3 linked regions of the Homo sapiens genome follow. The protein of the gene in region 3 interacts with the protein of the main gene of each other region in a pairwise test. Each region holds a gene or a part of one and is shown on either strand. Other genes may lie near its edges.

Evidence for each region. Proteins that work in one complex are often made in the same cells at the same time.
Region 1: the proteins of GABPB1 (region 3) and ERN1 interact in binary tests that used the Homo sapiens proteins (3 or more experiments, as listed by UniProt).
Region 2: the proteins of GABPB1 (region 3) and CIC interact in a two-hybrid assay, tested with the Homo sapiens proteins (one large-scale study listed by BioGRID and IntAct).

Annotation. Positions count from the first base shown.
Region 1 is NC_000017.11:64,040,167-64,044,282, reverse strand, and holds part of ERN1 (serine/threonine-protein kinase/endoribonuclease IRE1 precursor), read left to right. Parts: intron 1-82; coding exon 83-295; 3' UTR 296-4,116. UniProt on the Homo sapiens protein: Serine/threonine-protein kinase and endoribonuclease that acts as a key sensor for the endoplasmic reticulum unfolded protein response (UPR).
Region 2 is NC_000019.10:42,288,614-42,293,978, forward strand, and holds part of CIC (protein capicua homolog), read left to right. Parts: intron 1-274; coding exon 275-477; intron 478-567; coding exon 568-793; intron 794-1,234; coding exon 1,235-1,338; intron 1,339-1,619; coding exon 1,620-2,853; intron 2,854-2,944; coding exon 2,945-3,132; intron 3,133-3,472; coding exon 3,473-3,594; intron 3,595-3,686; coding exon 3,687-3,853; intron 3,854-3,952; coding exon 3,953-4,246; intron 4,247-4,342; coding exon 4,343-4,668; intron 4,669-4,978; coding exon 4,979-5,223; intron 5,224-5,321; coding exon 5,322-5,365. UniProt on the Homo sapiens protein: Transcriptional repressor which plays a role in development of the central nervous system (CNS). In concert with ATXN1 and ATXN1L, involved in brain development.
Region 3 is NC_000015.10:50,347,758-50,353,122, forward strand, and holds part of GABPB1 (GA-binding protein subunit beta-1 isoform beta 2), read right to left. Parts: exon of another isoform or gene 1,179-5,365; intron 1-1,178.

The DNA.
Region 1 (4,116 bases), on a different chromosome or scaffold from region 3:
GCATGATGAAAGGGTGTTTTGCCAACATTTCCCGAGCTTTCTAACCCCTTTCTAATCTCCCGAGCTTTCTAACTCTTTGCAGAAGCACCACTACCGGGAGCTGCCTGCAGAGGTGCGGGAGACGCTGGGGTCCCTCCCCGACGACTTCGTGTGCTACTTCACATCTCGCTTCCCCCACCTCCTCGCACACACCTACCGGGCCATGGAGCTGTGCAGCCACGAGAGACTCTTCCAGCCCTACTACTTCCACGAGCCCCCAGAGCCCCAGCCCCCAGTGACTCCAGACGCCCTCTGAGCGAGGGCGGCCCCTCTGTTCTGGTGGCCCCAGCTGTGACTGAGGGCCTGGTCACCACAATTAGAGCTTGATGCCTCCCGGCTTTGCAGGGAGACCAGGCTTCCCAAACCAAGTGCCTTGAGCTGCCTGCTCTGCAGCCCACAGAGGACAGTGCTGACCCCAGGAAGTGGGAGAAGTGGCCCCTCGTGACCTACAGGGAACTGGGAAGATGCTGGCCCCAAAAGCCTTACGGTCATGATGTCTGCAAAGGAGGGCCTCAGAGACAGCGCGAGTAGCACCCCCAGCCATCTACTGGATAAACTTGCTTCAGACTTTTTAAATTCCTGCTTAATGTCAGTCTACAGGCCTTTCAGGAAGGGAGAGGAGGGAATCGTACATTTTGCTTGCGTGCTGGGACAGCTAGGCTGAGATGCACCAAGTACAGCCTTCACTGGAGACCGGAATTGAGAGGTGGGGGATGCTGAGGAGGGGGAGGACGGAGTTCAGAGGGTGTCGTCCTGCAGTGTGAGATTTCTCATTGATCACAGATGTGCCCAGAGTAGCCCAGGTCACTGTTAACTAGTGTTTCTGCAGAGGCAGCAGGAGCCATGAGCATGAGGTGTGGCATTAGGGACTGGTCAGCTATGCATGCTGGCAGGTGGGGTTGTGTCTGCAGGTCTCAGAAATGAAGAGGCTGCTCTGTTCTGGAGGCAGCCGTGGCCCAGTGCCAGTGGCCAGAACAGTGGCCTTTGGTGGGTGTGTCCCGGGCCATCTCGGGGTGGTGCTCAGGAGCGCCTGGGGCAAGAGGTAAAGAGTTCCCTGGCCTTCAAGGAGAGCAGCGAAGACCCAGACAGGGGCCAGCCTTCAGGACCAGAGGGAGGCCGCCGAATGGGACCCTCCTGGTCACCAGGAGAAAGCCCTGGGCCAGCGAGTAGGCAGTCAAACTCCTTCGTCCCCAAGGCCGGTGGAACAAGAGGCTCGTGGTGAGTCAGGGCCAGGGTGGGTGGCCAAGGCCAGGGTCACCGTGTGCTTCATGGGCCAGCTTTTTTGTTTTTCTTGGCAAATTTTAATAACTATATTTTGATTATACTGTAGAATGCTATGTCAGCATAAGTAAGCTAAACTTGAAGCTTTCTTGTGAAGAATAAATGCAAGATAGAATACATCTTCTATTTTTTGTGGTACCAAAAATCACCATCCCCTCAAGAGTGTTCATGTATAGAACATTCTCTAATGCTGAAGAGTAAAACATTATAGCAACACTATGTAAATGTATTGAACAGTATCAAAGAAATAGTCTCTAAATTGTTTGTACCATATTTTTTTTTCTAAACTTAACATAATTTTTAGCTTTAGTTTCAGTCAAAACTTTGTCTTTTCTCTCCCGAGAGCCTTAGAGGTTAAAATGCAATCAGCCTACCGTGTAAGGAGATGTTGTCCATGTACTTTCTCCAGCCAGTTGGGGGATCATTGCAGCTCAGGCCTGGTGAACTCAGAGATTCCATTCAGTATTAAGAATGGGATTGTTGAATTTTACTCACAGAGAAATCACTGTTTCTTCATGTTGTAAGATGTTTTCTGTTTGTGTATTTGTATCATGGTTACTCATCAAAAGCTCTCATTCTGCCTTTGTAGAATTCAGTTCCCTTCCTTTCATCATAGCTAAAGTGACTTTTTTCCCTACTATTAACGTGATCCTACATCCTTAAATCTCATCGATTACCTCACTTAGGCCTTGGAACCTTGGCCCTTGGTCGGTGTCCTTGGCGTCTTCTAAGCAAGGCTGTGCGTTGTTCAGAAACGTGGCCAGACCGCATTTCCTGCTGCTCCCATGCCGCATGCCAGGTGGCCTGAGACAGAGCTCCCCATACGGCTGCAAGGTGCTTTACCTGTGGGCTTTGGCAGTAACCCAAGAGAGGATCAGAAGGTGGAGAAGGTGCCACGAGTGATTTAACAGGCCTGCCACAGGGAGTGCCCCCAGCCCAGCTCGTTCTCAGCACAGGTTTTCTCTTTGGGAGTACCCAGGTGATTTCTAGTGACCCAATTTTGTGTCATCTCCCTGTTTTAGCCCCACTTGCCTAGAGACAACTGTTTCCGATGCCTTTTCTGCTTATCATACTAGTTTCTAACCACGCAGATTTCTCAAAATCATTTATTCAATGTATTTTATTTGAGCACTTAGTGTATTGAGCTAGGCAGGATATAGGGTGCCGGAGATACAGCGATGAACAAGACAGGCAAAACTTCTGCTTTCCTAAAACTTGTGATGAGAGAGAACAATAAAAAAGTGTTGCTGCCACAAAGAAACCAAAGTGTGTGGGGAAGGGCGCGTGTTTGCGGTTTACATCTCTTCTGTCCCAGAATCACAGGGATCTGGTCCGGTCACCTCTGGTCTTTCCTCTTAGTCGCCTTTAGGAGCCCTGGTTCCCGTCCATCCTCTGGGGGGTTTGTTTGAAGAGATCTCGTGTGGGTACTTGTCATGAAAACACCTTGGGCATCATCTGGTGTATCCAGTTCTAGTCTCGAGAATTCTGGTTTCCCACTGTGCTCAGCAAGTGGAAAGTTCTTTTCAGGCCAGAACAGCTCTGCACCATCACATATCGTGTTGCGGCTTAGCTGTTTGGTCTGTAGTTCAGGTTATGGGACTTCTCCAATCCTGGAAGGCTGTTGAGCTTTTTAGAAGTACTGTACGCTATCTTCAAGATGGAGCTTGGTCACATCTGTTAGGAATCCAAAGGACACTATGACTTATTTAAATCTTGTCTTACTAAACCTCTCTTGGGCACGTGTGCCAGAATTTCTCTTGTTGCTTCTTGAGTCTTTTTAATTTCAGTGTTTTTTCGTTTGTTTTTTGTTTTTTTGAGACAGAGTCTCGCTCTGTCACCCAGGCTGGAGTGCAGTGGCACGACCTCAGCTCACTGCAACCTCCGCCTCCTTGGTTCAAGCAATTCTCCTGCCTCAGCCTCCCGAGTAGCTGGGATTACAGGTGTGTGCCACCACGCTCGGCTAATTTTTTATATTTTTTTTAGTAGAGACGGGGTTTCCCCATGTTAGGCAGGATGGTCTCGATCTCCTAACCTCGTGATCCGCCTGCCTCAGCCTCCCAAAGTGCTGGGATTACAGGCTTGAGCCACCGCACCCGGCCTAATCTCAGTTTTTGAAGTGCTCCACAAGTCATTAGGCACCAAAACATTTTCACCTGGGGAACACTGGCATTTCCCTGATTAGCTGTGAAGCAATCTAGTGGCTAAGTGTGAAATCCTGGGTGCGCAGGTGTTCTCACTCCCGCCGTGTTCTCAGTGCAGTGGTGGTCAGAGGCCCTTCCAAGGAGACATCACTCTGATCAGTTACAGATAGATGTTCTGGAAGATCTGCAGGTGAGTAGATCCAGCAGAGTTTCTTCCCACCAACTCTAGAAGAAAGGGCCTTATCAGAGTTGACCCTGAGCCTTTGGTAAGGTTTTGTGTGCATGCGATTCAGTTATCTTTGGCAATTCTTTTCTTGCTGCAGTGAGAGATTAATTGGTTGCTGATCAAACCGTTCATGCAGATGGGGGGACCTTTGGATTGTACGGCTTTCTCCTCTTGGCTGCTTTCTTTTCAGGAAGTTGGACTTTGGCCAGGTTTGGCTTTCCCAGAGCCGTTCCTTTCTCTGTCCTTTCCTTGGGTCCTCATGGTGTGCCCATTGGATCCTTGGCCTTGTGATCCTCTGGGAACTGGGGGCCAGTTCCACTTTTGCAGCCTTCTGTGCTGGAAGAGAAGCCCAGCGCCCTGGAAGGAGCCTCTTTAAGTCCCCCATGTCGCTTTCTCTCTCTGCTCTTTTAGTGTCTGAGATTGCCTTTC
Region 2 (5,365 bases), on a different chromosome or scaffold from region 3:
GCTAGCCAGCACCACATGAACCTCTCTCCAGGCCTCCTTACTTTCAGGAGGGCTGCCCCCCAGGGAATGGGCCTGCTGCAACCCCAGAGGGCAGGAATCAGCAGGAATGAGATGCTGGACTGGTGGTGGGTGGTGGTTTTTTTTTTTCACCAAGTGGCCCAGAAATTCCAGCCTGCTTCTGCCTAGTACCTAGAAATATCTATGGGTTGTTGGGCCAGTCTAGGTGCTGGTGACAGGCTTACTGACTGTCATAGCGCCACTCTCTACTTTACAGTGTCCTCTGAGCTCCTGTCCGTTGCAGCCCAGACACTCCTGAGCTCAGACACCAAGGCTCCGGGGAGCAGCTCCTGTGGGGCAGAACGGCTACACACAGTTGGGGGACCTGGCTCAGCCCGGCCCCGAGCTTTCTCCCACAGCGGGGTACACAGCCTGGACGGCGGAGAAGTAGACAGTCAGGCGCTACAGGAACTGACGCAGGTCTAGGGTGCAGGCCCCCTAGTGGGGGTGGGCAGGGAACCTGTCCAGGGCAGCAGCCCCGCTGAACCCTCTCTGCCACCTATCCTGCAGATGGTGTCTGGCCCTGCATCGTACTCTGGCCCAAAGCCTTCTACCCAGTATGGAGCTCCAGGACCCTTTGCAGCCCCTGGTGAGGGAGGTGCCTTGGCGGCCACTGGGCGGCCCCCGCTGCTGCCCACCCGAGCTTCTCGTTCTCAGCGTGCGGCCAGTGAGGACATGACGAGTGATGAGGAGCGCATGGTCATCTGTGAGGAGGAAGGGGATGATGATGTCATTGGTGAGCATTGCAGGGCCCAGAATCTTGCCCAGGACCCAGCAGGCCAAGGCTCAGAGGGTGGGCAGAACTTGGATCCAGGCCCCTAGGCCCCTTTGTTTTCTTTTCCACTTGGTTTATGGTTGCATGTGGCCAGTTCAGGCCCTGCCGAGTAAATCCAGCCCTGCCCTCAGGAAGCCCCCAGCCCTGCAGGAAATCTGGAGGACAGGGGGCATGACCAGATCTTCAGGTGCAGTGTTAGGGGCTCTGTCCTGCAGGCTCATAGGCTCCTGCACTGGGCAGTGGGCACTGGGCATGTGGGCACAGCCCTGGGCTGAGGAGTAGCCTTCCTGGACAGCACTCCCTGCCGGTTTGGAGCAGAGCTGAGATCCAGGCTCCAGACTGTTTCTCCTGGGTCCCCCTGCATCTAGCCCCCTCCCCATACTGTTCCCTCCACTCCCTCAGCTGACGATGGCTTCGGCACCACTGACATTGATCTCAAGTGCAAGGAGCGGGTGACCGACAGCGAGAGTGGGGACAGCTCTGGGGAGGACCCAGAGGGCAACAAGGTGAGGGCTTGGGTCACGGTGCTGTCCCATCACACTCCCTCCTAAGCCATGGGAATGTCTGTTTCTCCCGGGCTTGAGAGAGGGGGAGATTAAGGTCCAGAGAGGGCAAGCTGCTTGCCCCGTGGGGAGTTGGGTCATAGTCAGGATGAATTGAGGCCTTCAGCTGGCAGGGGTGCAGCCCTAGGCTGGCCTGGCTGACAGGCTGGATGGGCATGGCTAGGGGGCTGCTATCGAGGTGTCGGAGTGTCCTGACCTGGGGTGTCTCCCTTCCTTTCATGCAGGGCTTTGGTCGGAAGGTGTTTTCACCTGTGATCCGTTCCTCCTTTACCCACTGCCGCCCCCCACTGGACCCTGAGCCCCCAGGGCCCCCGGATCCTCCTGTAGCCTTTGGCAAAGGCTATGGTTCCGCCCCATCCTCCTCTGCGTCCTCGCCTGCTTCCTCCTCAGCCTCGGCAGCCACCTCCTTCTCACTGGGCTCAGGAACCTTCAAGGCCCAGGAGTCTGGTCAGGGCAGCACAGCGGGCCCCCTACGGCCCCCACCCCCTGGGGCTGGGGGTCCAGCGACACCTTCCAAGGCAACCCGGTTCCTCCCAATGGATCCTGCCACCTTCCGGCGCAAGAGACCCGAAAGTGTGGGTGGCCTGGAGCCACCAGGCCCCTCAGTCATCGCGGCCCCTCCCAGCGGAGGAGGAAACATCCTGCAGACACTGGTGCTGCCCCCAAACAAGGAGGAGCAAGAGGGCGGCGGAGCCAGAGTGCCCTCCGCCCCCGCCCCATCACTGGCCTATGGGGCCCCAGCAGCTCCCCTGTCCCGTCCTGCCGCCACCATGGTCACCAATGTGGTGCGGCCTGTCAGCAGCACTCCTGTGCCCATCGCCTCTAAGCCCTTCCCCACCTCTGGCCGGGCTGAGGCGTCTCCAAATGACACAGCAGGTGCCAGGACTGAAATGGGCACTGGGTCTCGGGTGCCTGGGGGCTCCCCGCTGGGTGTCAGCTTAGTGTATTCGGACAAGAAGTCGGCAGCAGCCACCTCACCAGCCCCACACTTGGTGGCTGGACCCCTGCTGGGCACTGTGGGGAAGGCGCCTGCCACTGTCACTAACCTACTGGTGGGCACCCCGGGGTATGGGGCCCCTGCGCCCCCTGCTGTCCAGTTCATTGCCCAGGGGGCCCCTGGTGGTGGGACCACTGCGGGCTCAGGAGCAGGTGCTGGGAGTGGCCCCAATGGGCCAGTACCCCTGGGCATCCTGCAACCAGGTGCCCTGGGCAAGGCTGGGGGAATCACCCAGGTACAGTACATCCTGCCCACGCTGCCCCAGCAGCTTCAGGTGGCACCTGCCCCAGCACCAGCCCCTGGGACCAAGGCAGCGGCTCCCAGCGGCCCTGCACCCACCACCAGCATCCGTTTCACCCTCCCACCGGGCACTTCCACCAACGGCAAAGTCCTGGCTGCCACTGCACCCACTCCTGGCATCCCCATCCTGCAGTCTGTACCCTCCGCCCCACCCCCCAAAGGTGAGACCTGGGCCGGGCAGCACTAGGGGAGGGGCCATAGTCCTGTTTGGCTCCCTTGTAACCTTTTCCTTTCTTGCCTCTTAACTTCCAGCCCAGTCAGTTTCTCCCGTGCAGGCCCCGCCCCCGGGTGGCTCAGCCCAGCTGCTGCCTGGGAAGGTCCTAGTGCCTCTGGCCGCCCCTAGCATGTCAGTGCGGGGTGGAGGGGCCGGCCAGCCACTGCCACTGGTGAGCCCGCCCTTCTCAGTACCTGTGCAGAATGGTGCCCAGCCCCCCAGCAAGGTGAGGGCCTGCCTTTCTCTCTACCTGCTGGATGTTGGCCCCTGTACCCCATCATTTCTTTGTCTTTTTTTTCAGTCTTTTCTCCTTCTCCATGTATCTGGTTCTCTGTCTTGCCATCTTCCGTGATGTCTCTGTGCATCCTGACTCTCTCAAGTCCTCAGTGTCTGTACCCTCCTCCTTCTCTGTGTCCCCACCTCTCACTGTCATCTTGCCCATCCTGTTCTCACCCCAAGTTCTGTGTTCCTTGCTTTTGCTTAGAGTCCCACTTGAGGTCTTGGTCTTCCCCTGCCCCAGTCTGGGGCCACAGCTCACCCTGGCCTATGGGTGCCCTTCTCCACAGATCATCCAGCTGACCCCGGTGCCTGTGAGCACACCCAGCGGCCTGGTGCCGCCCCTGAGCCCAGCCACACTCCCTGGACCCACCTCTCAGCCTCAGAAGGTCCTGTTGCCCTCCTCCACCAGGTAATTGCAGCTGAGCCCATACTCAGAGGCCAGGGAAGGGGTGGGGCGGGGCCGGCTTACCTCACTCCTCCCCATTTCCTCTCCTGCGGCAGAATCACCTATGTGCAGTCAGCGGGCGGGCACGCGCTGCCCCTGGGTACCAGCCCTGCGTCCAGCCAGGCTGGAACAGTCACCTCGTACGGGCCCACGAGCTCTGTAGCTCTAGGCTTCACCTCGCTGGGGCCCAGCGGCCCCGCCTTCGTGCAGCCCCTGCTCTCAGGTGAGGGGCGGCCTGGCAGGCAGTGCTGGGGACCCAGGGTGGGGCTGAGGCAGTCCGGGCCCTAACTTGGTCTCCTGCTTCTTCTTCTCTGTCTTTCAGCAGGCCAAGCCCCACTGCTGGCTCCCGGTCAGGTGGGCGTGTCACCTGTGCCCAGTCCCCAGCTGCCGCCTGCCTGTGCAGCCCCCGGAGGTCCTGTCATAACAGCATTTTACTCTGGCAGCCCTGCACCCACCTCCTCAGCACCCCTGGCCCAGCCATCCCAGGCCCCCCCAAGCCTGGTCTACACTGTGGCCACCAGCACAACCCCACCTGCAGCCACCATTCTGCCCAAGGGCCCGCCAGCCCCTGCCACTGCCACCCCAGCCCCGACTAGCCCTTTCCCCAGCGCCACAGGTAGGTGTCAGATCAACCCAGAGCAGAGTGAGTTGGGGGACCCAGGGGATGGGCTCCAGTCAGGCCTGGCTCAGCAAACAATTTTCTCCCCACTAGCAGGTTCCATGACCTACAGCTTAGTGGCCCCCAAGGCCCAGCGGCCCAGCCCGAAGGCCCCCCAGAAAGTGAAGGCAGCCATCGCCAGCATTCCCGTGGGGTCCTTTGAGGCAGGTGCCTCTGGGCGGCCTGGCCCTGCACCCCGGCAGCCTCTGGAGCCTGGCCCAGTCCGAGAGCCAACTGCCCCAGAGTCTGAGCTTGAGGGGCAGCCCACACCACCAGCCCCTCCACCCCTGCCAGAGACCTGGACTCCCACGGCCCGGAGCAGCCCCCCACTGCCCCCACCTGCTGAGGAGCGGACCAGCGCCAAGGGCCCTGAGACCATGGTGAGCGCCTGCAGGCCGTGGGGCTCCCACTGCCACTTGGCTGTGCCTCTCCATTGACGTCTTTGCTTTTCTGTCCTACTCTTCTTTCCATGCCTGTGTGTCTCTCAGGTTAAAGGGTCCCCTCTGTCCCTTCTGCCTGCCTGTGTTGTCTCCTCTCCCATCTGAGGCCCCTGTCTTGGCCTTCCTGAGGCCGTGTGACAGCCTTCTCAAGGGGTCTGCTGGGCGGGCTCAGATCCAACTCTTTGTTTCTGGCCTTTGCCCCAGAGTCTGAGCTCAGTGTTCGCCATCTCCCTGCCCATCTCCACCCCAGGCCAGCAAATTCCCCAGCTCATCTTCAGACTGGCGCGTCCCTGGGCAGGGCCTGGAGAATCGTGGGGAGCCTCCCACTCCTCCCAGCCCGGCCCCAGCTCCAGCTGTAGCCCCTGGTGGCAGCAGCGAGAGCAGCAGTGGGCGGGCAGCCGGGGACACCCCGGAGCGCAAGGAGGCGGCTGGTACTGGCAAGAAGGTGAAGGTGCGGCCCCCGCCCCTGAAGAAGACCTTTGACTCTGTGGACAAGTGAGCATGGGCTGGGGCCTTGGTGGAGCGTGTTAGGGTGGCGGGAGTGGGAGCAGCTGCAGGCTGAGGCGGGGGAGGTGACCCTGCCGGCCCTCCAGCAGGGTCCTGTCAGAAGTGGACTTCGAAGAGCGCTTTGCTGAGT
Region 3 (5,365 bases):
AAGAATCACTACTATAGGCTGGGCGCAGTGGCTTATACCTGTAATCTCAGCACTTTGGGAGGCCAAGGTGGGCAGATCACTTGAAGTCAGAAGTTGGAGACCAGCCTAGCCAACATGGCTAAACCCCGTCTCTACTAAAAATACAAAAATTAGCTGGGCATGGTGGCGGGCACCTGTAACTGCAGCTACTTGGGAGAATCACTTGAACCCGGGAGGCAGAGGTTACAGTGAGCCTAGATCACACCACTGCACTCCAGCCTGGGTGACAGAGTGAAACTCCATCTGGAAAAAAAAAAAAAGAATCACTACTATAGTAAACCACCATAGTAAAAGTATCTTATCCCTCAAGTGTAATGAGACATAAACAAGCTAATTGGGTTATAGGAATGCTCAAGCCTCTTTCAGAAAAAGATTCTACATTATGTAATATAATCACAGCATTAGTGGGTTTAAGATATTCTTTAAAATAGAATCACAGTCAGGACCAACAGGAGTAGTTTTTTAAATTTTTTTTGGAGACAGAATCTTGCTCTGTCACCCAGGCTGCAGTACAGTGGCACAATCTCCGCTCACTACAACCTCCGCCTCCCAGACTAAAGGAATACTCCCACCTCGGCCTCCCGAGTAGCCGAGACACAAGCACACACCACGTCTGGCTAATTTTTGTATTTTTAGTAGGGACGGCGTTTCACCATGTTGGCCAGGCTGGTCTCGAATTCTTGACCTCAAGTGATCCGCCCGCCTCGGCCTCCCAAAGTGCTGGGATTACAGGCATGAGACACTGAGCCCGGCCATTTTTTTTTTTTTAAACTTTGAAACTTTTTGGCTGGGCACAGTGGCTCACACCTGTAATTGCTGCACTTTGGGAGGCCGAGGCAGGCAGATCACAAGGTCAAGAGATCAAGACCATCCTGACCAACATGGTGAAACCACGTTTCTACTAAAAATGCAAAAATTAGCTGGGCGTCGTGGCGCGCACCTGTAGTCCCAGCTACTCGGGAGGCTGAGGCAGAAGAATCGCTTGAACCCAGGAGGCGCAGATTGCACTGAGCTAAGATCGTGCCACTGCATTCCAGCTTGGCGACAGAGTGAGACTCCATCTCAAAAAAAAAATTTTTTTTAAATCATAGTATCAGTATGCTGAGTATTTTTTAAATCAAAGGAGATGGAGGTGGACATTTTCCATTATTTCATTTTAATTGACTTTAATTTACCATGCACTATAAAACTATAAAATACCATGAAAAGATGTTTTAATATTATAAAATAGGACTCAAAATTAATATTTTATAGGTTCCTTATCTTCAATTCCAAAAATCCAAAAAACTTCTGAAACCCAAAATAACTCATCTTGTGGTAAACCTTACCCAAACTGATATGAAGCTATTTACAGTCTTTATCCTATTTAGTGCGAACATTCATACATTTTGTTGCAGAAACAGTAACACTTTTGAAGGGGGATATTGCACTGGACTCTATTGGAAGGCTACACATTACTACCTTGCCCATATAAAAAAAAAATTCCTAATTCCATAACCTATTAGACCCTAAGAGTTTGAATGGTGGACTGTGATCCTATAATTGCTAACATTTATTGAGCTATTAACTGTTATGTTTCAGGTACTGTTCTGTTCACTTTATATGAAATAACATTTAATCTTTCCAATCATCATGAGCTAAGTATTATAATAATCCACATTTTACAAAGAAGGAAACTGAGCCACGGAGAGATTAAGTAAACTGCCTAAAATCACACAGCTAGAGTATGACTAACTGGGATGACACTGGGATGAATATTTAAAATATTACACATAAGAGTAACAACACACAACAAAATAATTGATTATGGTAGGGTGGTAGGAGTGATATGTTTCTCTACTCAATTGATATTACTTCTAGAATAAGGAATCAAACAAAAAATTACAAAACACTACATGCATTTACAAATTCTCATGTACAATTTCTACAAACTTGCTTAAAATGCAGAGTATAAAACCCAAATTTCTCAGCTTATGCTAACACATTTAATTTTTTATTGAAAAGTTACATCTTAATATCTTAATTACAACATGATAGATAATTTATATTCATTGTAGAAGTTAGAAAATTTGGATAAGCAAAAAGAAAACAATCACCTGTAAAACTACACTCAGAAATAACCATTTAACAATTTGGCACATATCCTTCCAGACATAATATATTTTTGGGTTTTTTTACCAAAATGGAATCATGTTTTTAAATTTATTTTTTCTCACTTACATATACCAAGACATCCTTTCATGTCTTTATATTATTCTATCATCATTTTCATGGCTGAGAAGGCAGTACCCCACTGTAGGGATGGACCCTAACAATCACTGTGAAACATTTAGGTTGTTTACAATTTTACCATATAATGATCAATAGTACTGGCTCTAGAGTCACACTGGTTGGATTCAAGTCCTGGCCCTAACACTTAACTAACTCAGGTACCTTGAGCAAGCAACCTCATTTCTCTATGCCTGTTTTTTCTTCTGAAAAGCAGAAATAGTACTACCCACTTCATATGATTACCGTGGGGCTTAAAGGCATTAATACACAGCTTTTATAATCAACAATACTGCATCTAGTATGCTCACAATTAAATATTCACACACATCTTTACTACATCAAAAAAAAAATTCTTTAAAGGGAATTTCCATGTCAGAAGGTATGCCAATTTTTAAAGCTGCTGAATCTACCAAATTACAGTGTGGTTTAAAGCCCTTCATTAAATAGCCTTCTCACTTAATACTCATTTCTCTTTATCCAGGAAGGCAAAAACTATTATCAAGTTAACCAGTTTGTTTCACTCAATTAGCTTTTTGTTCTTCCACCTGTAAACCTCGGCATATTTAATAAAACCTCAAAGTTTATAGGTAACTTGAAGACACCTAGCTCAAATTCTCCTTCAGTACGATTCCTCTACTCTAGAATCCCCAATTTGTCAGTGAACAGGAACAGCCTACCACCCAAAACAACTCATTCTATTTTCACAATTTTGAGGAAATTTATCTTGAAAGAGAATTGAAATCTGCTTCTTTTAAACTTCCACCCACTGACCCTAGTTCCTTCTGGTCAAGTCAAATCTGATCCTTCTGCATGACAGAACTCCAAATCCTTAAAAGTGGCTGTTACTTCTTAAAAGAAGCTCCTCTTCTTTAGGTCAAACATCCCATTTTTTCAACTTTTTCTCATTTCCATTTCTCTCATGATCAAGGTCCTCGTTTATGCTCTACAGATAAGTGATTTTGACACTTAGGTGTCTACCACCTTGGAAATGAGAAAAATTAAGGTCCGTTCCTACCCTACTTAAGTTTGGGCCTCTGTGTGGCTTTTTATTAGCTCTCCAGATGATTCTGATAAAGTCTGAGAATGAATACAAGGTCTCACTTATGATAGTATGCTACCCAAAAAGCCAACACAATACCCCAAATATAATATAACTAGTACACAGTAAAGTGGGGCTAACACCTTGCTCTGTCAATAAGCTGTTCTACCAACTTCAGAATTATTCACAGATGGGTGTGTTGGCTGACGCCTATAATCCCAACACTTGGGAGGCCAAGGTGGGAGGATCACTTGAGTCCAGAAGTTTGAGACCAGCCTGGGCAACACAGTGAGATCTCGTCTCTACAAAAAATTAAAAAATTAGCCAGACATGTTGGCAGGTACCTGTAGTCCCAACTACTCAGGAGGCTGAGGCAGAGGCAGGATCGCTCGAGCCTGAAAGGTGGAGCTTGCAGTGAAGTATAATCGCACCACTGCACTAAGCCTGGGTAACAGAGAAAGCAAGACCCTGTCAAAGAAAGAAGAGGTGCAAAGGGGAAAACAGGGAGGGAAGGAGAGAGAGGGAGAGGGACAGAGGGAGAAGGAGAGAGGAAAGAGGGAGGGAGGGAGGGAGGGAGGGAGGGAGACAGAAAGGTGCACTAGCCCACCAACTGAACTGACAGCTGATTGCACCAAAGCATCTTCTTTGTATAGAGCACTGTGATGTCAACACTGAGAAAAAACACAGGCCCTAATACTGATCTCATCTAGTGCTAGATTTACCTTCTAGAAAGCATGATGGAACAAACATCTTCAGAAAACTATAATACTAATTGTAGCTATCCCAATGTAGGCACATCAGAGCTATAGAAACATTGTGATTACTAGCTGGAAACCATACTAGTTGTTGGGGAGGAGAGGGGAGCAGAGGGATGACACTAAGGAAACTAAGTTGCTCTCAACTTCAAGATTTTGTGTGGGTTTGTTTTTCAACGTTTGCAAAGTCAGAAGAGATGGAGGCCATCAGTGAGTTCATCTGAACTCAGGCTACTTGCAAACAGAGACTGGGTAACTGCCTCGTGCACCCTCAAAAATAAATTCATGATGCAAAACTTCATGTAATTTCTGAATTTCTGAATTCCTCATGACGTGCACTTTACCTGTTACCTGTTAATATTTCTGGTACTGAGGGGCAAAAGAAAAAAGTAAAAAAAAATTCATGGTACAGGAGATGTGGTCCATTACAATGACACAATGTTATGGGAAAAAACACACTAAAACCAAGCATACTTTTTTTTTTTTTTTTGAGACAGAGTTTCGCTCCTGTTGCCCAAGCTGGAATGCAATGGCGCTATCTTGGCTTATTGCAACCTTTGCCTCTCTGGCTCAAGCGATTCTCCTGCCTCAGCCTCCCGAGTAGCTGGGATTACAAGCGCGCACCACCACGCCCAGCTAATTTTTTGTATTTTTAGTAGAAATGGGGTTTCACCGCGTTAGCCAGGCTGGTCTCAAACTCTTGACCTCAGGTGATCGGCCCGCCTCCACCTCCCCAAGTGCTGGGACTGCAGGCGTGAGCCACTGTGCCTGGCCAAACCAAGTGAACTTAACCAAGATCCAATCTATTTTCGTTTGAACAGCAAACATTAAAAGTACACCTGGTATTTTCTAACAATTACACGAAGAATGACCAGATGCTTCCTGTTGATGGAACAGTAGAGAACTATAGACTGACAGATTCAGACTACAGTTCACAGAAACAACTGGAAACAAACTTAGCTTCCTTTCAAAGCCATTAAAATACGGCCTTAAATTTTTATGCATTAATCAATTAAGTATAATTGTCTCCCAATAAGTATAATTGTCTCCCAACCTAGAAAACCCAGAATGATTCAGAGAGACAAAGAACTCTAAGGATATGTCTCTGCAAACTGTTCGTTTCACCAAAGGATTCACTGCAGAATTAATTTTCTGTAAAATCTGTACCTCCTATAATTTTCAACATGTTCTATCTTTAAAGATAACATTTACACAAGTGTTGATAGCATATGTGGAATTCACGTGTTACTTGTGTAAATCA